Homo sapiens: one gene and its partners. The protein of the gene in region 7 purifies or fractionates together with the protein of the main gene of each other region. This does not show direct contact. Each region holds a gene or a part of one and is shown on either strand. Other genes may lie near its edges. The genes, in order: SEC62, RBM34, HERC5, RBM28, SDAD1, RRP12 and SLCO6A1.

Region 1 (4,176 bases), on a different chromosome or scaffold from region 7:
GTTTATCTGAAAAACGAGGGTGTTGGGTGAGATCAGTCAGCTGTAGGATCACCACTCTGCTTTCATGTTAAGACTGAATTTATGAAAAAGGCTTCCAAACAAACCCTACTAGATCCTTTTAAACTCTAAAATTTCTTGATACCAGGATTGTAAATCAACTTCTACTATGCAGCAGCACATTGTTAATCTATATGTAGTTACTGTATGAGTACATGTAGCTCACTTCTGGTTTTCAGTGACCAGTAATGAGTCCAAGAAGGAAATGTGACAACAGTCCTCTTGCTAGAAACTTCGATGGGACACGAGAATCTGAAATTATACTGAATTACAAAGAAAAAGCAAATTAGCTACTTTTTTTTTTAACCCTGAACTTATTTGTTTGTATCAAACATTTCTCCCCAATGTGCAAAGTATAATTAAAGATCACTGAATCTATTAACCATCTTTCTAAACATAAAACATCAAGCAACAAATGACAGAAACTCAGTTGGTATTACAGACCTTTTGCCTAAAAATTCTACAACAGGATCTTTTTTGTAAGTTAAACTCTGAACTTTTCATTACATTTGATCTTTTTATCACAAGTGATGTATTATAGTTTCTGATTATCTGGAATGATAAAACTGAGGTACTTTCTAGGCTAGTATATTTTCATAAGTGTGTTAGGCTGCATGAAAGTAGTACTCTAAGATCTCTCACAAACATTTTATACAGCCATGTAGAAAATTTCAAGGACAGAAAAATAAATGTCACTTAATTTTGCAGTATGCCCAGTAGATTTTAATAATCAATCCTCAAATAATAGAAAGTAAACAGCTATACTCTACATAACTCCCAACCTAATAGTTTACTGAATAGAGGGTTGTTAATCTTTCTTCAGCATATCAAAGAGTAGTTAACAAAAAATAAAATAACAATCCAATCTAAATCCTTCATCCTGGGTAAGGAGTAGAATAGAAGGGAGGGGCTGCGTGCCAAACACTTTTAATAACTTTTAATAAATAAGTTGACTCACCTATTATTTTCACAGCAATCTTAAAGTTTTTCTTTTTTCTTGCTTTTTTTTTTTTTGAGGTAAATATGTTTTCTTACCGATGCAGACAGGGAGGTAAAAATTAACTTGCTCAAAGTTACTCAGCCAATAATTGGTGGAGGTGGGGTACAAACAGGCAGTTTGGCTCAAGTTTTAGCTCTCTGCCACTGTCACATTACTCCACAGCCTCTGTTTAATATAAGATCACAACTAAATAAGAGCAGCTATTCAAAAGGTGAATTATATAGCCCTTACAACAATATTAAAGAGCAACTGGAATTGTAAAACAATGTGTATTGAAGGGCATAAAATTGTACTGTCAAGTGTAAATCTAAGGAGTTCTGTAAGTACAAATCTGACAGACAATTTCAATATACAATCTAATAAAATACTGTATACCCACGTCAGAGGAATAACACTAACTCTTGAAAGATTAAGAACAGTATAATTAGAAACTTCTACTGATCTTAAGACCTAGTCTTATCTGTCTGAACTCGAAATCTGCCTCTTTCTAATTCCCTTCTGCACCCTGTTCGGAACTACTTTATTTCTGCCAAATTCCAAAATTCCAAATTTACTGATCATGTGTGTCTTTTTCACAGCACTTAAAAAGTTTACAGAAGAATTTTAACTTGCATAGCTCAAAACATCTGTATTGTACGCCAATAAATCGATAAACTTAAAAAAAAAAAGAAGGGATAAAATGGAAGAAAGAAAAAATCATTCTAAGCAATGAAATAGTAAGGAACAGAAAGGCAATGATGAATGTAACAATTTATGATTATAGTAACAATTTACTACATGTGATCAATTTGAGGGCTTATGAAGGTTTCTCAGCACATCAGCTGATGAGACGACTAATAAATATCCTGAGTCCAAGATGTTCTACATAATTAATCCTCTTGGCAAAGAACAAGAACCAGGGAAAATCGCAAGGAAGAAATGCACAAATGACACGCATGTGGAATTAGGGGGAGATGTTATGTACGTTACTACGAGGATGACACACTGGCATGTGAAAGGTTTCTGGGCTCCACCAGCTCGTTGCAGCACCAACGAGGTTGTGGTTGTTTACACCACGTCGCCCGGAAAAAAGCCGGCAAGCTTCAAGTGGACTATTAAGTTAATAATATTGAAGGGAAAGAAGGGCAACGCAACTGAACATCTGGATGAGCAGATCCCTGCCTAGGCCCCGAGGCAGCTGACCAAGTCCAGATCATTCCCCCTTACGGTCTATGCGCACAAAGAACCAGCTGCTTTAGGTCAGTCCGCCGCCTCCTGCTACCCCTATTACCGTGGCCTTAATTTCAGGCCAGCTAAGGCCAGAGGATGGGGTGAAGGGAGGGGAGGAGCCCCGGGAAGGGTCAGCGTCTGCGCCCCAGGGGAGGCTGACCTTCCAGCTCAGGCCCGGGACAGCGCGACCACAGGAACTCCAGGCCCACAGCCGCGCCTCCGCAGCCGGATTCTGAGCGCGGCGCCTCCTTCCTTCCCCTGCTGCTCCACCACCACCTCCGTCTCTGTCTCCGCCGTCGCCAACACCGCCCCCCCTCAGGCCCCTCACAACGCGCAGCCTGCAGCCAGCTGCCTCGCGGCGGAACCCCACCCCACCCCACCCCACCTCGCCCTTGCTTTCGCTCGCCCTTTTAGGGGGCTTTCCCCGCCCCTTCCACTATCCAGCGCGCCGAAGCCCCCTGCCCAGAGCTCGGCTTTGCTACCTGGATCCGCTTCTTGTGTCTCCTGCGTTCCGCCATGTTGGCCGCTCCGCCCGGTTCCCTCTGACGTGGAGCGAGGAGGGGGCGGTGGAAACCTCGCGAGAACGCGCCCCGAGGCCCGTTATGTAATCCGCCGGCTGGCGCCCCTGGAATGGGGAGGTCGGCCGCCTGGCGGGGCCAGCGGTCCTTAGCGGTGCCTTCTCTCCCCTCTTCCCTCCGCTCCTGCTGTGCGGGAACTGGAGAATCGTTAGGACGTGGAGGAAGCAGAGAAGTGGATCAGAGAACAGGAGGGCTGGGAAGAGTCCTGGTTTCTCAATCCTGACTGAGCATCTGAATCACCTGAGAAGCTACTAAAATGCAGATTCCCCGACCCCATCCCCTTAGAGTCAGAGTCTGTGCATTTAGGGTGCGGCCTTTCTCAGAGGGATCGACTGAGACCTACTGAACCCTAGAAGTCTTTACCTGAGGCAGTTCCTGCAATGTACTGTATATTTCATGACATTCCATGTAAAAGATGACAAGACCGAGACCGTTGAGTGACAGAGATAAGAACTGACTTATCTAAGGCTCCACAGGTGGTAGATGGCAGAGCCGAGACCTGAGCCAATTATCTTTTCTCCTGCACTGTGCGGGGTAATACAGCTCGTTTAAAACAAGCTGGAGTCTCCATTCCGTTTTCCGCGTTGCTTCTCACAACTCACTGTTAGAATCCAGAAGTAAGAGAACCCGGGGAAGCGTAAGGAAGATGAATAGGACAAAGATTCTAAGAAGGTGGGAAGGAAGAAGGCTGCAGTCTATTTCAAGTCTGGTGAATTTCAATCACTGTAGCCTTTATTGTTATTTTAGAGCCACCTAGACCAAAAGAGAAGGAGCTCAAATTGCTGGTAAGTGCTTAGATAGAAATTCCCTTGACTGACTTTATAGAGATCTTTAAAGCGTTTTTAATTGTAGAAAATTGGGAAAATTCAGAATAGAAAGATGTTCTTTTTTTTTTGATGCTGAGTTTCGCTCTATATTGCCCAAGCTGGAGTGCAGTGGCGCAGTCTCGGCTCACTGCATCACCGAACTCCTCGTCTCAACTGATCTCCCTCCTCAGCCTCCTGAGTAGCTGGAACTACAGGCATGAGCCACCACACCTGGCTAATTTTTACTTTTTTTGTGTGGAGATGGAGTTTCCTTATGTTGCCCGGGCGGGTCTTGAACTCCTGGGCTCAAAACGATCCACCTGTCTCTGTCTCCTGAGTAACTGGAACTACAGGCGTGAGCCACTGTGACCGTTCAGTTTATTTTCTTATAGTATTCTGACTTTGTGTGTGTGTGTGCATGTGTGTTTGTATTTATATTTTTTCCTGTTTCCCAAATTGAGATCATATGCAATAAGGCAGCTGCTTTTTTCACTTAATGTTAGGTTGTAAGCGTTTATTATACCAT
Region 2 (3,500 bases), on a different chromosome or scaffold from region 7:
GGATATACTCTTGTCTAATTTGCTCAGCATAATGATTTTGAGGTTTGTTTTTTTGTGGGGGAGGGTTGGTGGAGGGGAACAGTGTCTTCTGCTGTTGCCCAGGCTGGAGTTCAGTGGCACGATAATGGCTCACGGCAGCCTTATCACCTGGGCTCAAGCAGTCCTTCTGCCTCAGCCTCCTAAATACCTGGGACTACAGGTGCTCGCCACCACACCCGGCTGATTTTTAAGTTTTTAGTAGAGCCAAGGTGTCACTAATGCCCAGACTGGTCCTGAACTCCTGAGCTCAAGTAGCCCTCCTGCCTTTGCCTCCCAAAGTGTTGCAATTACAGGCTTGAGCCACCGTGCCTGTCTGAGATTTGTTCTTATTATTGCAATGCATTGGTAATTAATTCGTTTTTATTGCTCAGTAGTATTCCCTTGTATGACAGTATTTGTTTATCCATTCACCTGTTTATTGTGTTGTGTTGTATTTATTGTGATGTATTGTACTGTATTGTACTGTATTGTATTGTGATGGAGTCTTGCTCTGTCGCTCAGGCTGGAGTGCAGTGGTACCATCTCGGCTAATTGCAACCTCTACCTCCCGGGTTCAAGTGATTTTCATGCCTCAGCCTCCCAAGCAGCTGGGATTACAGACACATACCACCATGCCCAGCTAATTTTTTCATACTTTTAGTAGAGATGGGGCTTTGCCATGTTGGCCAGGCTGGTCTAAAACTCCTGACCTCAGGTGATCCGCCCGCCTCAGACTGCCAAAGTGCTGGGATTATAGGCGTGAGCCATCGCACCCGGCCCCATTCACCAGTTTATGAACATTCAGGTTATTTCAGCCTTTGGCTATTATACATAAAACTGCTAAAAAAAATTTGGGTACGGATCATTTCTTTTGAGAAACTGCCTGGTCGGATTGCCAGATCTTACGGTATATTGTAACTTTCTAAGAAGCTGCAAAATTGTTTTCCAAAGTGTTTGTACCATTTTACATTCCTACCAGCTATCGATGAGAATGTCAGTTGCTTCACATCCTCACCAGCACTTGGCATTGTCATTTAATTTTAGACATTCTGAAGGTTTGTCAACCACAGTGACTAAAAATGTTAGGCATCTTATGTGCTTACTATTTGTATCTATTCTTTGGTGAAATGTTGGTACAAAAATTTTGCCCATTTTTTAGTGACTTTTAAATTATTTTTATATGGTTGTAAGGAGTTATTTATATATTCTAGATATAACACCTTTTCCTGCTATGTGTGTTTCAGATATTTTGCTCCAGTTTGTGGCTGGCTTTTTTAGAGGTGTCTTTTTTTTTTTTTTTTTTTTTGAGATGGATCCTTGCTCTGTCACCAGGCTGGAGTGCAGTGGTGCGATCCCAGCTCACTGCAACCTCCGCCTCCCGGGTTCAACTGATTCTCCTGCCTCAGCCTCTCAGGTAGCTGGGATTACAAGCGTGCGCCACCACACTCGGGTCATTTTTGTATTTTTAGTAGAGACGGGGTTTCACCATGTTGGCCAGGCTGGTTTCGAACTCCTGACCTCAGATGATCCACCCACCTCTGCCTCCCAAAGTGCTAGGGTTACAAGCATGAGCCACCACACACGCCCAGAGGTGTCTCTTAAAGATTGAAAGTTTTAAGTTTTATTGAAGATCTCATTTAGAGAGTGCTGTTGTTGGCCAGGCACAGTGGCTCACGCCTATAATCCATTACTTTGGGAGGTCAAGGTGGGCGGATCACCTGAGGTCAGGATTTTAAGACCAGCCTGGCCAACGTGGTGAAACCCCGTCTCTACTAAAAATACAAAAATTAGCCAGGAGTGGTGGCGTGCGCCTGTAATCCCAGCTATTCTGGAGGCTGAAGCAGGAGAATCACTTGAACATGGGAGTTAGAGGTTGCAGTGAGCCGAGATCATGCCATTGCACTCCAGCCTGGACTGCAAGAGAGAAACTCCGTCTCAAAATAAAAAAAGTGCTATTGCTTGTCAGTTGGCTTGGTAGTCTGGTGGGAGTGGGCGCAGCAGGGTCTCTGCTGTCTTGTCTTAGTGTTTCCGTGTCTCAGGAGTGCACCTGATCAGGGCTTTTTTCCCGGGGCAGCCAAGCTGTGCCAAATGCCTTGTACCTTTAGTGGGGATTATGCAGAGGATGTTTCCCACCTCTCCCCCGGTAGCTGGACTCCTCCCTTCCTCCGGCTGTAGGGGTCTTCTCTGTGCCCTGGAGTGACAGGGTTTGCTATCCCTCCCCTAGCAGCTTAGCCTTCTCCTCCATCAAGAGAATGTGTCCGGAATTGGTGGGTTCTTGGTCTCACTGACTTCAAGAATGAAGCCGCGGACCCTCGCGGTGAGTGTTACAGCTCTTAAGGTGGTGCGTCGGGAGTCTGTTCCTTCTGATGTTCGGATTTGTTCGGAGTTTCTTCCTTCTGGTGGGTTCGTGGTCTCACTGGCTCAGGAGTAAAGCTGCAGACCTTCGCAGTGAGTGTTACAGCTCTTAAGGCAGCGCGTCTGGAGTTGTTCGTTCCTCCCGGTGGCCTCGTGGTCTCGCTGGCTTCAGGAGTGAAGCTGCAGATCTTTGCGGTGAGTGTTACAGCTCATAAAAGCAGCGTGGACCCAAAGAGTGAGCAGTAGCAAGATTTATTGCAAAGAGTGAAAGGACAAAGCTTCCACAGTGTGGAAGGGGACCCGAGTGGCTTGCCACTGCTGGCTAGGGCAGCCTGCTTTTATTCTCTTATCTGGCCCCACCCACATCCTGCTGATTGGTAGAGCCGAGTGGTCTGTTTTGACAGGGTGCTGATTGGTGCATTTACAATCCCTGAGCTAGATACAAAGGTTCTCCATGTCCCCATCAGATTAGTTAGATACAGAGTATCGACACAAAGGTTCTCCAAGGCCCCACCAGAGCAGCTAGATACAGAGTATCGATTGGTGCACTCACAAACCCTGAGCTAAACACAGGGTGCTGATTGGTGTGTTTATAAACCTTGAGCTAGATACAGAGTGCCGATTGGTGTATTTACAACCCCTGAGCTAGACATAAAGGTTGTCCAAGGCCCCACCAGAGCAGCTAGATACAGAGTGTCGATTGGTGCACTCACAAACCTTGAGCTAAACACAGGGTGCCGATTGGTGTGTTTACAAACCTTGAGCTAGATACAGAGTGCCGATTGGTGTATTTACAATCCCTGAGCTAGACATAAAGGTTGTCCAAGGCCCCACCAGAGCAGCTAGATACTGAGTGTCGATTGGTGCACTCACAAACCTTGAGCTAAACACAGGGTGCCGATTGGTGTGTTTACAAACCTTGAGCTAGATACAGAGTGCTGATTGGTGTATTTACAATCCCTGAGCTAGACATAAAAGTTCTCCAAGGTCCCACCAGAGTAGCTAGATATAGAGTGTCGATTGGTGCATTCACAGACCCTGAGCTAGACACAGGGTGCTGATTGGTGTATTTACAATCCCTGAGCTAGACATAAAGGTTGTCCACATCCCCACCAGACTCGGGAGCC
Region 3 (2,272 bases), on a different chromosome or scaffold from region 7:
ACATAGTGTATTTCAAGTTTTGGACTATTATGAATAATGCTCTTGTGAACATTCTTGTACATGTGTTTTGTTTATGTGCAGGCATTTCTGTTGGTATGTAACTGGGAGAAGTGCTTGGTGCCTTGTGGTTGCCCCTTGCTCCATGCAGGCAGAATCAATGCTCCTACCTGAAATTCATTTGGATATTGATATGGATGATGCCATATGTAAGCCAGAGAGTATGAAAATGTTTAGTACATAATGGGGCTTTTTGGGGAGAGCTGCACAGGCATCCAAGCTGATCTGTTTGGCTTAAGTGAAGAGAGAGGCAGGTGGCTTTAGTTTTTATGGTGGTTCCGTGGGGCCAGGGTCAGGGTTCTCATGCAACCCAGAGCATGCGTGGGGAAATTTAAGCCACGCAGCCATCAGTGGGTGCCCAGGGAGTGAGCCTGTGTTGTGCAGATTTGGAGGCGAAAGGGGAAAAAGGAGGAGTGGGACTTGAAAGCTGTTAGTAAGCAAACATAAAAAATGGAGGCACACTTTCATCAGTAGGGTACGACAGTTCTAATTGCTCTATATCCACTCTAATAGTATTACTAGTCTTTTTTAAATTAGCCATTCTGGTGGGTATATAGTAGTATTCCATTGTGGTTTTAATTTGCATTTCTCTGATTACTAATGTTAAGCACTTTATATGCTTATTGGCTGTTTGGATATCCTCTTTTCAGAAATAATTATTCCTCATCTTTAGTCTATTTTTCTGTTGCTTTTTTTTTTCTTGTCAGTTTATGAGAGTTCTAGATGCAAGTCTTTTGTTGGTTATATGTACTGCAGATATCTTCTTACATACTGTGGCTTGTCTTTTCACTTTTTAAATGTGTCTTTTGATTAACCAAAATTTGTAATTGTAATGTAGTCTACTTTATCAATATTTTCCTTAATGCATAGTGTTTTTCTGTTTTCTATTTTATGAATACTTCCCTATCCTAGGGCTATGAATATATTCCCCTGTATTTTCTTCTAGAAGCTTATCATTTTATTTCTCACATTTAGATCTATGATCCACTTTAATTGATTTTTTAGTAAGATGCAAGGTATGGATCAGGTTTTATTTTTTCAATTTTTGAAACTGATTATACTGAACCTATAGATCAATTTTTTGAAAAAATTGACATCTTAAAATAATGAGGCTTTAATCCATGAATACAGAATCTCCATTTGTTTAAATCGTCTTTTGTCATTCTTGAAAAAATGTTAGGTAGTTTTCTATGTAGAGATCTTGTTGCAATATTCTAAATAGGTTTCTTGGATCATTTATTGTATTTGAATCTTCTCTGTCCTTAAAAATTTTTTTGTCTGCTTTTCTGTTAGTTACTAGGAGAGGTATATTAGCATCTATACTATACATGTGGATATGAGTGTTTCTTTAAGTTTCGTTATTACTAAGCACATAACAGATTTTTGAATTGTTTTACCTTCCTGGTATATGACTCGGTTGTCATTAGTAAATGTACTTTTCTATCCTTGTCTTGTTTGTCTGATTTTAGTATAGTTACACCACATTCATTTTGGTTGATGTTTGCATAGTGTATCTTTTTCCCTTCTTTGACTTTAATCTGTGTTTTCACATTTAAGTTATATATGTTATAAGCAGCATATGATGGAGTTGTTATAAAAATTACATTAGGGCCAGGTGCGGTGGCTAACGTCTGTAATCCCAGCACTTTGGGAGGCCGAGGCAGGCAAATCACAAGGTCAGGAGTTTGAGAGCAGCCTGGCCAACATGGTAAAACCCCATCTCTACTAAAAATACAAAAAAATTAGCTGGGCATGGTGGCAGGCACGTGTAATCCCAGCTACTTGGGAGGCTAAGGCAGGAGAATCTCTTGAACCCAGGAGGTGGAGGTTGCAATAAGCTAAGATCGCACCACTGCATTCCAGCCCAGGTGACAGTGCGAGACTCCGTCTCAAAAAAAAAAAAAAATTACATTAGATAATCTCTAGTAACTATGACAGTCCATGGCACATGGTAGGTACTCAATAACTGTTAGGTATTCTAGCTTTTATTTTTAGCCCCTCACCATTTTGTTCAGGATATTGCAGTAAGTGGAAATAACATTTTGTTTTATTAAAGGAGAGACTATGTTTCTAAGTATATCAATTACATTTTCAACGACTCTGTAAAGGCGGTTTATGAAGAATTTCGGAGAGGATTTTATAAAATGTGCGACGAAGACATTATCAAATTATTCCACCCCGAAGAACTGAAGGATGTGATTGTTGGAAATACAGA
Region 4 (4,272 bases), on a different chromosome or scaffold from region 7:
TGCCTTTACCTGAAAAGGACACATAGTTCATATGCTCTGCTTCTCTTTCCACTGCATTTGAATCTCCTTCAGGGTATAAGCCCTTTGACACAGGACACTGATCTACATAAACTGGTTAAAGCAACATAACATCAATTTTTCTCTTCTCTTGAACTCCTTATCATAAAAGCTGCCCACTCACCTTTCAGAAAATGAGCACAAGAAAATTCATAGCCCTTCATGATCAGTACAACCAAAAGTAAAGCAGCTGAAATGTAAAAGAGTTTGACACCCAAATGAAAGGACATACAGTAAATACCACACATTTTACATGTCTGCATAAAGCATGCTCACATACATTTAGAGTCCCTGACAACCCTGTGAAATTATTCCCATCTTAAAGAGGTGAAGTGACATGCACTGCTATTGAGGAAGACTTCATTCCACATACCCTCCCTCCCGTTTCACTGAGTGCAGCACTCTTTCCAGTACATATCAGCTGTCTGGATAGGAAAGTGCATAGTTTTTTAAAAGGAAGTAAGAGATTTTTAAGGATTTAGACCAAGTACACAAGGTGTAAGGTAAGATTGCATGTAGCCTATATTCTGAGGACTCAAAGGAGAACTCCCATTCAATGGCCTATTCTTCCCTGGAATACAACCACCTGGGTACGGAATGCTACTTACACTGGAACCCAGTACATACATATATTCTTTATTTAAAACTTAAAAGTTTTACAAATACTTATCCTTTACCATATATGGACGTACTCCTATACTATTTAATTTTTTAAGAACTCTAGGCCAGGCGTGGTGGCACATGCCTGTAATCCCAGTGCTTTGGGAGGCCAAGGCAGGAGGATCATTTGAAACCAGCCTGGACAACGTAGTGAGACCCTGTCTCTACAAAAAATATTCAAAAATTGGCCAGGCATGGTGAAGCACGTCTGTAGTCATAGCTACTTGGGAGGCTGAAGTAGGAGGATTGCTTGAGCCCAGGAGTTTAAGGTTACATTGAGCTGTGATCGCACCACTGCACTCCAACTGTCAACAGGGTTGACAGAGCAAGACCCTGTTTCTAAAACACAACAAAACAAACTCTAGTCATGACCCACTCAAGACCCACTAATAGGTAATAATCTGCAGTTTAATAAACATTACTGTACAGGACTTTCGGTCCCTATTTTAAGTACATAAGCTTTTGTCCTATTCTCCAACAGTCTATTGGCAACACACCAGCCAGAGAGAGAATCTTTCAAAACGAATGCCAGATCACACTTACTGCTCTCTGCTTAAAATCAGTGGCTTCCTATCTCTGAGTAAAAGCCAAAGTCCTTGCAATGGTCTATAACATCCTACATGAGGCGGGCGGATCACCTGAGGTCTCGAGTTCCAGACAACCCTGGCCAACATAGCGAAACCCCGTCTCTACTAAAAATACAAAAATTAGCCAGGTGTAGTGACACTCGCCTGTAATCCCAGCTACTTGGGAGGCTGAGGCAGGAGAATGGGTTGAACCAGGAGGCAGAGGTTGCAGTGAGCGGAGATCGTGGCACTGCACTCCCGCCTGGGCGACAGAGCAAGACGCAGTCTTTAAAAAAAAAAAAAAATCTTACATGATCTGCTACTCTAGATCTCATCTCCTAATTCTCTTCCCTTTACTCACTTCAATCCAGTCACCCTGTCCTCCTTACTACTCCTCCAATATACCAAAAACACCTCTGTTTCAGTACCTTTGAGCTTGCTGTTTTCTCTTCCTGAATTGTTCTTCCTCCGGAGAGGCATGTGTTCACTCTCTCACCTCAGTCCGTCCTTCTCTGGCCACCCTATCTATATTGCCACTCTTCACCCCCTCTCCCCACTATACACATGCACATAGACTTCCTAACCCCTTTCCCTGGCTTATTTTTCTCCTTAGCATTTGACATCATTTTCACGGTTGGCTTGTTTATTGGCTCGTTTATTGGCTCTCTTCCCCACCTTGAAGACATAAAATCAAAGATTTTTTTGGTTTGGTGTTGTGCACTGCTGCATCCCCAGGACCTACAACACTTCCTGGCACACAGTAGGTATTAAGTATTTGCTGAATAAATGAATGAACAAGTGGATAGCATCCTGGCTAAGATGTCCAGGTCTGAGGATCAAATCGGGGGTCCACTACTTAACAGCCGTACAAACTTAAAGTTACTAAATTCCCCTAAATCCCGGATTCCTGTCTGTAAAATGACATTAAGACTCTCCATCCGGTAAGATTGCTGAGAAAATTAAATGAGATAACCTGTATCAAACTGATCACTGTACCTGCCAATCAGGTGACTCTCAATAAGTCTTACTGATGCTCTAGTTAACTATTTTCATTTTTAGCGCGCATAATCAACAGAAAGCGCTATAGAAACGTAAGGGAATGCTTTGCCCTTCATAAACTGACTCCTATGAACGCATCTAAAGCAGAATCAGTTTGGAAAAGAAACTCAGTTCCCTGTCCCTTCTCTTCGGGGAGGGTAAAGAATGATACGGCTCCCTGAAGTTTGGGAAGGTGCCCTCGATCGCAGGAAACCCCAGCCCTATCCTCGACCGCCCCGCCCCTACCTTTTTCAGTCACCACGAAGCACTGCTTCACCGGCCCCACCTGACTGAACAGTTCCTCCAGCTGCTCACTGCGGGCCGAGGGCGGGAGGCGGCCCACAAATAAGGTCAGGCCGGCCATGAGACCGGGAAACCCAAAGCGCGTGAGGACGCGAGCAAACTAGGCCGGCGCACGCGAGCCGAAACGCTGGCTTTGGTAGGACAACCAAGCTCACACGCCGAGAGATTCCGGAAGTGCTCGTTGCCCAAAAGAGACCGGAGGAAAACATGGTCGGGAGGGGGATAAAAGGTTCCGGAATGAAAAAATAATGGCGCCCCGGGGCGTAGCTTCTGGAGCGGGGCTCCGCCCCCTGCCCTAGCATCGCCCTCGCCACTTTTGTGTAAACTTGGCATCAATAATTTCTACCCTAGTGTTACAGCTTTTTTAGAATTTGCCTAGCAGGCTTTCTGGTTTTTGCCGGAAGGCCTCCAAAAAGTAATTTTTTTTCTTAATATACAAAATAAAAATAAATAATTTCTACCCTGTTTAAAAATCTCACCTCCAGATCCTCCCCAAAGTTAGCAGGACAGGCAGAAGAAGTCGTTTTTGCCCCGGGCGTAACTCAGGATCTGATATACTGTGGGTGTTTGATATTTTCTGAAGTGCCTCCACAAATTCCCAGATTACGTGCATAAAACACAACCGGAACACTAACACGTAGACATAGATATATCATATACATCATTCGGACGATTCTCATTTTCGGAGAACACCAGCTGTCTGTCACCTCAGCCTCACAAACAAATTGTAGCTACTAAAATACACATAGACACAGATAGTACACAATTATTATTTCAATAAATATATACTGAGCTCTAACTATGAGCCAAGCATTAGGGATAAAACTGGTGAGCAAAGAAATGACAGGGTCCCTGCCCTCATAGAGATTACAGTCTAATGGTGGAAACAGATTTTTTTTTTTGACAGGGCCTCACTTTATCAACCAGGCCGGAGTGCACTGGCACGATCTCGGCTTACTGCAGCCTCGACCTCCCAGGTTCAAGCAGTCCTCCTGCCTCAGCCTCCTGAGTAGCTGGAACTACAGGTGCACCACCACACCCGGCTAATTTTTGTATTTTTTGCAGAGACAGGGTTTCACCATGTTGCCCAGGCTGGTCTCAAACTCCTGAGCTCAATTAGCCCCCCTTAGCCTCCTAAAGTGCTAGGATTATAGGTGTGAACCACCACACCTGGCTGGGAAGACTATTAGTCCAAAAATTCTTACAAATAAATCACAGCACACACACTGCAGGACCACATCAAACACACTCAAAGCAAACATAACATCCAACTTATACACAGAGACCTAGAACCCATGTCCTCCTAGAAACAGAAGATCTTTGTCTCAAGTCAGCTCATCAGACAGACCCAAAGCTGAGAGCTCTTAATTGGCTAGGAAATCTGGGTGCTCCTGGTTCTGGAACACAGAGAGTGTTTGCCATGCCACTGGGCTCAGGACCTGAATAGGTGCAAGAGAGCTACACCTTGCAGAACAACTAGCTCAAAAAAAAGTACCCAAGGCCATTTTTTAAATAATTTTTTTTTTAGCAGACTCTTGCTCTGTCACCCAACTTGGGGTGCAGTGGCACCATCATGGCTCACTGCAGCCTTGATCTCCTGGGCTCAAGCAATACTGCCACCTCAGCCTCCTGAGAAGCTAGGACCACA
Region 5 (3,500 bases), on a different chromosome or scaffold from region 7:
AAAATACAAAAATTAGCCGGATGTGGTGTCGGGCACCTGTAATCCCAGCTACTCAGGAGGCTGAGACAGAATCGCTTGAACCCAGGAGGCGAAGGTTGCTGTGAGCCGAGATTGTGCCCTTGCACTCCAGCCTGGGTGACAGAGCAAAACTCTGTCTCAAAAAGAAAAGAAAAGAAAACAACAACAACAAATTGGTTTCTCAAAGCAAGTCTTCTTGTAATACTGTAAATACTCATGGAAAATTCTTTTTTAAAAAATTGACGTTTTATTGCATCTTCATAATAGATATTAAGATTTGATCTCACTGCTCACATTGACCTTGCATGCATTCTCAATGAAAAACAACACAAAAGCAGGAAAGAAGAGATGATTGTTCTTGTCTTTGAACCTGAACCAAAGTAGGAAGGAAACTAACATTTATTCAGTATCTAACATGGACCAAGCACTGTGCTAAGTGCCTTACATACGTCATTTTGTCTAATCCTCACATTAATCTTGTGAGGTATACAAAGAGAGGGAAAAAAAAGACTAGAGTCACTCAGCAAATAAATGGAAAATCAGGATTCACCTCACTTCTTTTGCCAGTGGCCTTGTTTGTTACCTATGCTATGCTGCCCCTTTGAAAAGAGACAGTGTGTGTGTGTGTGTGTGTGTGTGTGTGTGTGTGTGTGTGTGTGTATGCATTCATTCAGCAAGTATTTATTTAATGATTTTTATGCCAGGCACTGCATTAAGACAGTACGAATTCCACAGTAAACGTAAAACAAGGTCCTTACCCTCATGGCTTACATCTGGAGGCAGATGTAGATGTGCTATATATAATATGTCCAGGTAAAGATAAGTGTTTTGAAGGAAAAGGAAGCAGGATAAGGACAATAGGGAGTGTCGGGACGGGTTCTGTTTTACATTGTGTGGTCAGGAGAGACTTTTTGATAAGGCAGCTATTGAGTAGGGACCTGAAGAAAGTGAGGGGGTAAGCCAAGCAGATATCTGGGGATTGAGTGTTCCAGGTGGAATACGCAGCAATACCATTTAGACCAGAATGAGCTTGCCATGTTTGCTGTGGTCCTCAGAGGCAGGGTGATACACTGACCATGACCTTTCTGTTCTCTTATGTTTTCAGAAGTAACCAAGATCCTTCTGTTTGCTGCACAAGCATCTCATCACCTAGTACCCCCAGAGGTGAGAACCTGTAACCTGACTTCTGGACCTAGGGCATGGATGACAGTGTTACTGTTAGGTACTTCAGGGTCTATCGGGGGAACCTGCCCCCGATAATTCAACGTGGGTTTTTTTCTATTTCTTGTCAGATGGTCTGAGAAATGAAGGGAAAGAGTACAAAAGAGAGAAATTTTAAAGCTGGGCGTCCAGGGGAGACATCACATGTCGGCAGGTTCTGTGATGCCCCACAAGCTCCAAACCAGCAAGGTTTTATTAGTGATTTTCGAAAGGGGAGGGAGTGTAAGAATAGAGTGTGGGTCACAGAGATCACATGCTTCACAAGGTAATAAAATATTACAAGGCAAATGGAGGCAGGACGAGATCACAGGACCAGGGCGAAATTAAAATTGCTAATGAAGTTTCGGGCACGCATTGTCATTGATAACATCTTATCAGGAGACAGGGTTTGAGAGCAGACAGCCAGTCTGACCAAAATTTATTAGGCGGGAATTTCCTCATCCTAATAAGCCTGGGAGTGCCACGGGAGACCGGGGCTTATTTCATCCCTTATCTACAACCTTAAAAGACAGATGTCCCTAGAGCGGCCATTTCAGAGACCTACCTCTAGGAACACATTCTCTTTCTCAGGGCTGTTCCTTGCTTAGAAAAAGAATTCAGCAATATTTCTCCTATTTGCTTTTGAAAGAAGAGAAATATGGCTCTGTTCTGCCTGGCTCTCAGGCAGCCAGACCTAATGGTTATCTCCCTTGTTCCCTGAACATCGCTGTTACCCTGTTCTTTTTTCAAGATTTCATATTGTTTAAACAATTTGTGCAGTTAACACAATCATCACAGGGTCCTGAGGCTACATACATCCTCAGTTTATGAAGATGACGGGATTAAGAGATTAAAGACAGGCATAGGAAATCACAAGAGTATTGATTGGGGAAATGATACATGTCTATGAAATCTTCACAATTTATGTTCAGAGATTGCAGCAAAGACAGGCATAAGAAATTATTAATTTTGGGAACTAATAAATGTCCATGAAATCTTCACAATTTATGTTCTTCTGCCATGGCTTCAGCTGGTTCCTCCATTCGGGGTCTCTGACTTCCCACAACAAGGGTCATTTTTCCCACAAGGGTTACTGTCCCCCCTTCCCTCACCGTTTTCTTCTTTTAATAGATAGAAGAGACACTAACTCTTAAGGGGATCTACACAGAAGTTCAGTTGTACGTCTCATAAAAAGAAGTTTCTTTCAGACAAGTTGTTTAGAATTCTGATTTTCTTTAATAAGCAAATTTTGTATAACTAGGGGAGGTCAAGAATATTAGTAAATTTATAGAGTAATTCCTTTCTTTGATTTAGTCTGAGGATAGCCAAGAAAAACACTGAATTCCTAAGTGGAGTGTTTTCTTCTGTCTTCCTTAATCTTGATTACTTCCAATTCCTAAACTGAAGGTGGAAGGCTGGGTTTTCCACTATGAATAATCTATTGTCCTTTCATTCTTATGTGTTTGTGTATGCAGACATTTAATCAGCACCCATCTCTTTTTTGTTTCCAATTCAGATTATTCAATCATTGCTTATGACTGTGGCAAACAATTTTGTTACCGACAAGAACTCTGGAGAAGTCATGACAGTAGGGTATGTAGAATCTGGTTGGAGGCAGAAGATACATTGTTTAATGGACTAGATTTGCTATAAGTTACCAAGATGTAAGATTGTAGCTGGTAGTATCACCTCTATAAAATTGGTTTAAAATATATTTCAGTCTTTTTGGGAGGCTTGATAATTTTTTTATTGGTCAGAATTTTGAGAAGGGAGCCAGAGAAAAGATACTTTTCCTTCTAATTAGCATTTTTGTTTTTTAGCAGTTTTACTTTTACAGATGAATAATTGATTAGCAAACTAAGTGCTTTTCTTCTGATCTCCCACCGTAAACTTTGTACTGCTAATAAAATAAATATTTGGCTCCTAGTTCTGGAGCTGGGAAGTCCAAGGGCATGGCATTGGTGTCTGTCTGGCACCTGGTGGGGGCCTCGTTGCTGCATCATTGGCAGAAGGCACAAGGGGAAGAGAGCACAAGAGCCAACAGAGGGCCAAACTCACTTTTTTATAACTCACTGGTGATAAGGGACCTTCTCCCAAGATAACAACATTAGGCCTAATCACTTCTTAAGAGTCTCTCCTCTTTGAACTACAAACCACTGCTCAACAAAATAAAAGAGGATACCAACAAATGGAAGAACATTCCATGCTCATGGATAGGAAGAATCAATATCATGAAAATGGCCATACTGCCCAAGGTAATTTATAGATTCAATGCCATCCCC
Region 6 (3,500 bases), on a different chromosome or scaffold from region 7:
TCAGCTTTCCGGATGTTGACCAGGACTCTGTGGTACTCCTCGGGCAACAGCCTTTTCACCAGCTCAAATCTGGAGGTGGCAAGGAAGGGCTGGTGAGAGGCACTGGCCAGACAGCACGACCCAGATGTAGTGTCCCTGGTAGGACTGGAAATCCTCGGCCCCTCGCTTGCCCTACCCCCGCCCCTGCTCAGTGCACAGACCCAAACTTGCGGATGAACTTGGTGAACAGGTTCCGAAGCTTCATGCGGAAGTGCCGCCGCATGTCATCTGAAAGCTTCCCAATGGCTTCCATCTGCCGGACAGAGCACCAGGCTTTCAGGGAGGCGAGCCTTCCATGCTGCGCCCCCTTTACTGCTGTCCAGCCCAGGGACGCAGCATGATCAAGCCCAGCTGAGGGGAGGGTTAGCGCGGCCCTGCTCCTGGCCCACACCCTGGCCCAGTCATGCTTCCCTCGGGTGGGCAGGCCCCATCTTTCCCCTGCACCCTCCTTCAGGACACAGGCCTGAGCACCCTCGCAGGATGAGAGCTTTAGTCTTCTCAACAGCACTTGGTACTTGACATATATCCTCTCCTTGAATCCTTGGACTACCCCTGAGATACATGCTATCACCCCCTATTTATAGAAGAGGACACGGCGGCACAGAGGATAAAGTGTTTGCTAAATGGCCATAGAGGTGGGAGTTCAGCCCAGACTCATCTAATGCTGCGGCTCCCGCTTTGCCCCTAGCACCCCAAGATTTCTCTTGGTCCCCTATGTCCCTTCCATCTCACTGCATTCTGCTCTGGCTGGATTCCTCTTAAGCCTTCATCTGGCCCAGTTTGGGTTACATGTGCAGGTGGCAGATCTTCTTATCTCCAGTGACTCCCAAACCGGCTAGGGGATAGGGTCCACGTCTACTCCTTTTTTTTGAGATGGAGTCTCGCTCTGTTGCCCAGGCTGGAGTGCAATGGCACGATCTCAGCTCACTGCAACCTCCACCTCCTGGGTTCAAGCAATTCTCCTGCCTCAGCTTCCTGAATAGCTGGGATTACAGGTGCCTGCTATCACGCCTGGCTAATTTTTGTATTTTTAGTACAGACAGGGTTTTACCATACTGGCCAGGCTGGTCTTGAACTCCCAACCTCAGGCGATCCGCCCACCTTGGCCTCCCAAAGTACTGGGATTACAGGTGTGAGCCACTGTGCCTGGCTTTTTTTTTTTTTTTTTTGAGACAGAGTCTTGCTCTGTCACCCTGGCTGGAGTGCAATGGCATGGTCTCGGATCACTGCAACCTCCGCCTCCCAGGTTCAAGCAATTCTCACACCTCAGCCACATGAACAGCTGGGACTACAGGCGCGCACCACCATGCCTGGCTAATTTTTGTATTTTTTAGTAGAGATGGGGCTTCACCATGTTGGCCAGGCTGGTCTCGAATTCCTGACCTCAAGTGATCCACCCACCTTGGCATCCCAAAGTGCTAGGAATATAGGTGTGAGCCACCGCTCCTGGCCTCCCCAACCACTCTTGGAAGGGCTTCTATAAATCCCTTTTTTTTGAGACAGAGTCTTGCTCTGTTACCCAGGCTGGAGTGTAGTGGTGCAATCTTGGCTCACTGCAACATCCGCCTCCCAGGTTCAAGTGATTCTCCTGCCTCAGCCTCCCGAGTAGCTGGGATTGCAGGCACCTGCCACCTCGCCCAGCTAATTTTTGTATTTTTAGTAGAGATGGGGTTTCACCATGTTGGCCAGGCTGGTCTCAAACTCCTGAACTCAAGTGATCTGCCTGCCTTGGCCTCCCAAAGTGGTGGGGTTACAGGTGTGAGCCACTGCAGCCGGCCAGGGCTTGTATAAATTCGAATAACTCCATGATGGATCACTGCTCTAGCTGTTCTCCCCACCTTTGGTCCCTAGTAGGCTGCAGGCTCCGAGGGCAGCGGGAGGGCATGCTGATTCTCATCTGTCCCTTCCTATCTTGAACCCAAGGCCAGACCCAAAGAAAATATGCAAGAGGGACCCAGAGGTCTGATGTGACTCAAGCCAGTCACACATGGGAAACTGAGGCAGTAGGTACAGTGCACAGCTTGGCTGGAAGCCTACGCCAGCCTGGGCAAGGCTTCTCTTGGGCAGGAGAGGGCCAGGGACCCTATACCAAGGGGCTCTTCAGATCCTTCTGCAGCCCAGCAGGGGACCCAAAGGAATGGCCTCTAACCAGCAAGGTCAAAATGCAAGATGGGAAAAAAAAAAAGGCAAGATGAGGGGGTCCTGTGGAGGGAGAGCCCAGCGTCTGAGTCCCATGATCTGGAAAATCTCTGGCCCAGTTTCTCCATCTGTAAAATGAGGAGTGGCCCTGCCCATGGGCCTTTGCCCTGAAGAGCCCCTGTTGCTTTCCATGTAGGGCTCTGGGGTGAAGAAAGCCACCTGGGCAGTGTGCCCCCTCCTCGCCTCCACCTGACAGGCATTCCCCTATGGTCCCTTTTAGGGCTCCTTAATGACCTCTGGCTACAAAAAAAATAGTTTGAAACTTGCTGGCCTCGAAGCTTGCCAGGTCCATGCCAACAGCTCAGAGGCCACCCTGCTACCTGCTAAGGGGAACGGGGACACTCACCACCAGCTGCACATGTTTGGCCAGGTGCGCCACGTCCATGACAGTCACTGCCACCTTGATGAAGCCCAGTGCAGACTTGACCACGTCACGGGTGCGGGAGGCCAGAAGCAGGCACACATTCTCCAGCAGCTGCTCCACTGTACTGGTCCCCATCAGACCTGTGGCAGTGAGGGGGTCACTGTCTAAGACACCCAGGACCCCACTCAGACCCAAACCTTCCCCACTGGAAAACAGCCACTCAAGTGTCAGTAAAAGCTGACATTGAGAGCCTTTCCGTATGCCCGGGATGGTTCCAATCACGCTCCATGGAGTGGTCTTGGGTCCTTTCGTCACCCTGAGGTGGGTGCTATTTCTTGCTTCCATTTTAGAGATAAGAAACTGAGGTGCTAAGAGGCTAATCAAGCTGTTCTAGGTCTCATGTGGTTGCCAAGAGGCAGGACTAGGACTAAAATCCAGGCATCAGCCCTAACCACCTCCTAACCACTCTGACAATGGGATGCAGGGCCACTGGACTGCACAGTCACACGTGGGGACAGACCTGAGGAAGGTGCCTTGGCATAGCCGCAAGGGCGGGAGGCAGCGACCCGCAGGAAGGGAGACAGGGAGGCAAACTGGGCTGGGTGTGGCTTTTCTTACTTCCTCCAGGCACCTTTTCCCAGTTCCAGGAGCCACTTTATCCTGACCTTTTGGGCATCTTCCTAATCTGAGGGCTTCTCAGGCCTTCTAGGAAATAAGCATTTACCTTTAAACTCGAAAAGGAGGTGGGTCAGGGCCAGGATGCTGCAGCTGACCATGGTCACCGCGCCCACCAGGCCAGGGTAGATCAGGACGAGGTAGCACTGCAGGGCCTCTGGGGACAGAGACCAACGTGGGTCAAGCAGGAAGGACCCACCAGGTAGGGGGGCTGAGGGCCAGA
Region 7 (3,500 bases):
ACCTCAGTTGGAAATGCAGAAATCACCTGTCTTCTATGTTGCTCACGCTGGGAACTGTAGACTGGAGCTGTTCCTATTCGGCCATCTTGGAAGTGCACCCATTGAGTATTTTCTTGACCCTATCCAGTCTACTGAGGAGGTCATCAAAGACATTTTTTTTCATTTCTGCTGCAGTGTTTCTGATTTCTCACATTTTATTTTGATTCTTTCTTAGAGTTTCCATCTCTCTCCTTACATTACTTATCTGTTGTTGCATATTGTCCATTCTTTCCAATAGAGTCCTGATATGGTTTGGATTTGTGTCCCTGCCCAAATCTTATGTTGACTTGTCATCCCCAATGTTGGAGGAGGGTCCTGGTGGGAAGTGATTGGATCACGGGGGCAGACTTCCCCCTTGCTGTTTTGTGATAGTGAGTTCTCAAGAGATCTGGTTGTTTAAAAGTGTACAGCACTTCCCCTTCACTCTCTTCCTCCTTCTCTGGCCATGTAAGATGTGACTGCTTTCGCTTCACTTTCCACAATGATTGTAAGCTTCCTGAGGCCTCCCTGAGGCCTCCCCAGCCATGCTTTCTGTACAGCCTGCAGAACTGTTGAGAGGTGACAGCGTGCTGGCAGTCCTCACAGCCCTCGCTCGCTCTCTGCACCTCCTCCGCCTTGGCGCCCACTCTGGCCATGCTTGAGGAGCCCTCCAGCCTGCCGCAGCTCCGTGGGAGCCCCTTTCTGGGCTGGCCAAGGCCGGAGCCGGCTCCCTCAGCTTGCAAGAAGGTGTGGAGGGAGAGGCACGGGCGGGAACCGGGGCTGCGCACCGCGCTTGCGGGCCAGCACGAGTTCTGGGTGGGCGTGAGCTCAGTGGGCCCTGAACTCGGAGCCACCGGGCCACCCGCAGGCCCCAGGCAGTGAGGGGCTTAGCACCTGGGCCAGCAGCTGTTGTGTTCAATTTCTCGCGGGGCCTTAGCTGCCTCCCTGTGGGGCAGCGCTCGGGACCTGCAGCCTGCCATGCCTGAGCCTCCCCCACCTCCGTGGGCTCATGTGTGGCCCAAGCCTCCCCAACGAGTGCCGCCCCCTGCTCCACGGTGCCCAGTCCCATCGACCACCCAAGGGCTGAGGAGTGCGGGTGCACCGTGCGGAACTGGCAGGCAGCTCCACCTGCGGCCCCGGTAGGGGATCCACTGGGTGAAGCCATCTGGGCTCCTGAGTCTGGTGGGAACTTGGAGAACCTTTATGTCTAGCTGAGGGATTGTAAATACACCAATCAGCACTCTGTATCTAGCTCAAGATTTGTAAACATACCAATCAGCACCCTGGGTCTAGCTCAGGGTTTGTGAATGCACCAATGGACACTCTGTATTTAGCTACTCTACTCTTGTGGGGACTTGGAGAACCTTTGTGTGGACACTGTGTATCTAGCTAATCTAGTGGGGACATGGAGAACCTTTGTGTCTAGCTCAGGGATTGTAAACGCACCAATCAGCGCCCTGCCAAAACAGACCACTCGGCTCTCTGTAAAATGGAGCAGTCAGCAGGATGTGGGTGAGGCCAGATAAGATAATAAAAGCAGGCTACCGGAGCCAGCTGTGGCAACCCCCTGAGTCCGCTTCCACACTGTGGAAGCTTTGTTCTTTCGCTCTCTGCAGTAAATCCTACTGCTGCTCACTCTTTGGGTCCACACTGCCTTTATGAGCGGTAACACTCACCGCGAAGGTCTGCAGCTTCACTCCTGAAGCCAGCGAGACCACGAACCCACCAGGAGGAACGAACAACTCCAGATGTGCCACCTGAAGAGCTGTAACACTCACCATGAAGGTCTGCAGCTTTGCTCCTGAGCCAGGGAGACCACGAACCCACCAGAAGGAAGAAACTCGGAACACACCCGAACATCAGAACAAACAAACTCCAGACATGCCGCCTTTAAGAACTGTAACACTCACCGTGAGGGTCCGCGGTTTCATTCTTGTAGTCAGTGAGACCAAGAACCCACCAATTCCAGACACACTGTGAGTCAATTAAACCTCCTTTCCTTATGAATTATCCAGTCTCAAGTAGTTCTTTATAGCAATGTGAAAATGGACTAATACATGTCTTTAGCATATTGATCATAGTTATTTTATTTTTTAATTGACATATAATAATTGTACATACATATGGGATAAAATGTAGTATTTCAATTTATGTTTATATTGTGTAATGATCAAATCAGTATAATTAGCAATCCTTTGCCTCATATATTTATCATTCCTTTGTGGTGAGAACATTCAAAATGCTCTCTTATAGCTATTTTGAAGTATACAGTACATTATTGTTAATAGGGTGACTCTAGTCACCCTACTGTGCAACAGAGCACCAGAATTGATATCTCCTATCTAACTGTAACTTAGTACTCATTGACCAACCTCTGTGCATCCCTCCTTCCACCCTCTCCAGCCTCTAGTAACCATTATTCTACTCTTTACTTCTGTAAGATCAACCTTTTTAGATTATACATATGAGTGAGAACATGCAGTACTTGTCTTTCCATGTCTGGCTTATTTCACTTAACATGATGTTCTTTATCCATGCTGTAGTAAAAAACAGGATTTTATTCTTTTTTATGGATGAACAATATTCCATTATGTATATATACCACATTTTCTTCATCCATTCATCTGTCAATGGACACTTAGGTTGGTCCATATTTTAACTATTATGAATATTGCTTCAATAAACATGGGGATGCAAATATTTCTTTGACATACTGATTTTATTTCATTTGAATATATATCCAGTAGCAGAATTGCCGGATCATTTGGTAGTTCTATTTTTAGTTTTGAGGAACCTCCATACTGTTTTTATAATGGTTACTCTTACATAAATTCCCACCAACAGTGTATAAAGGCTTCCTTTTCTATACATCCTTGCTAATACATATCTTCTGTCTTTTTGATAACAGCCATTGTAACTGGATATCTTATGATTTTGATTTGCATTCCCCTGATGATTAGTGATGTTGAGCATTAAAAAAAATAGATCTGATGATCATTTTTATGTCTTCTTTTGAGAAATGCCTATTCAGGGCTTTTGCCCATTTTTAAATTGGATTATTTGTTTGTTTGTTTGTTTTGCTATTGAATTGTTTGAGTTCCTTAAATATTCTGGGTAATAATTTAAATTTCTGGAAATCCCCCTTTTCCATATGATTCTGTTTTAGAGTTTTCCACTGAGGGTAACGTATGCGATGTTTGGAAGTTTGAAGAGAAGGAGAGGAGAGTCATCCTTCTCCAGAGATGTTTGCAAGCAAATCCTTGCAGGTCTGAGGTTGCGTGTATCCTGCTGAGCATTTAAAAACCACCCACTTTGCTCCTGCAGGCTGATGCAGCTCTTGGGAACTATTGCAGAAGCTCTTGAGCATTGCTCAATTTCTTGATGACTTTTTAAAGAAAATAAAGGGGAGAAATAGCAGTGGGGCATACCCCTAACCAAAGGGACTCTAACTTTTATGCTTCTATGCTTTCTATGCTTCTGTC

What was found.
Region 1: the proteins of SLCO6A1 (region 7) and SEC62 purify together in Homo sapiens (affinity purification with mass spectrometry; one large-scale study listed by BioGRID and IntAct). This does not show direct contact.
Region 2: the proteins of SLCO6A1 (region 7) and RBM34 purify together in Homo sapiens (affinity purification with mass spectrometry; one large-scale study listed by BioGRID and IntAct). This does not show direct contact.
Region 3: the proteins of SLCO6A1 (region 7) and HERC5 purify together in Homo sapiens (affinity purification with mass spectrometry; one large-scale study listed by BioGRID and IntAct). This does not show direct contact.
Region 4: the proteins of SLCO6A1 (region 7) and RBM28 purify together in Homo sapiens (affinity purification with mass spectrometry; one large-scale study listed by BioGRID and IntAct). This does not show direct contact.
Region 5: the proteins of SLCO6A1 (region 7) and SDAD1 purify together in Homo sapiens (affinity purification with mass spectrometry; one large-scale study listed by BioGRID and IntAct). This does not show direct contact.
Region 6: the proteins of SLCO6A1 (region 7) and RRP12 purify together in Homo sapiens (affinity purification with mass spectrometry; one large-scale study listed by BioGRID and IntAct). This does not show direct contact.

What each region holds. Positions count from the first base shown.
Region 1 is NC_000003.12:169,965,431-169,969,606, reverse strand, and holds the start of SEC62 (translocation protein SEC62), read right to left. Parts: upstream 2,801-4,176; 5' UTR 2,785-2,800; coding exon 2,749-2,784; exon of another isoform or gene 1,016-2,748; intron 321-1,015; exon of another isoform or gene 224-320; intron 1-223. UniProt on the Homo sapiens protein: Mediates post-translational transport of precursor polypeptides across endoplasmic reticulum (ER). Proposed to act as a targeting receptor for small presecretory proteins containing short and apolar signal peptides.
Region 2 is NC_000001.11:235,140,751-235,144,250, reverse strand, and holds part of RBM34 (RNA-binding protein 34), read left to right. Parts: intron 1-3,500.
Region 3 is NC_000004.12:88,502,119-88,504,390, forward strand, and holds part of HERC5 (E3 ISG15--protein ligase HERC5), read left to right. Parts: intron 1-2,113; coding exon 2,114-2,272.
Region 4 is NC_000007.14:128,341,109-128,345,380, forward strand, and holds the start of RBM28 (RNA-binding protein 28), read right to left. Parts: upstream 2,801-4,272; 5' UTR 2,686-2,800; coding exon 2,568-2,685; intron 1-2,567. UniProt on the Homo sapiens protein: Nucleolar component of the spliceosomal ribonucleoprotein complexes.
Region 5 is NC_000004.12:75,963,446-75,966,945, reverse strand, and holds part of SDAD1 (protein SDA1 homolog), read left to right. Parts: intron 1-1,123; coding exon 1,124-1,182; intron 1,183-2,734; coding exon 2,735-2,811; intron 2,812-3,500.
Region 6 is NC_000010.11:97,366,841-97,370,340, forward strand, and holds part of RRP12 (RRP12-like protein), read right to left. Parts: intron 3,435-3,500; coding exon 3,327-3,434; intron 2,743-3,326; coding exon 2,585-2,742; intron 293-2,584; coding exon 201-292; intron 70-200; coding exon 1-69.
Region 7 is NC_000005.10:102,489,002-102,492,501, reverse strand, and holds part of SLCO6A1 (solute carrier organic anion transporter family member 6A1), read left to right. Parts: intron 1-3,500.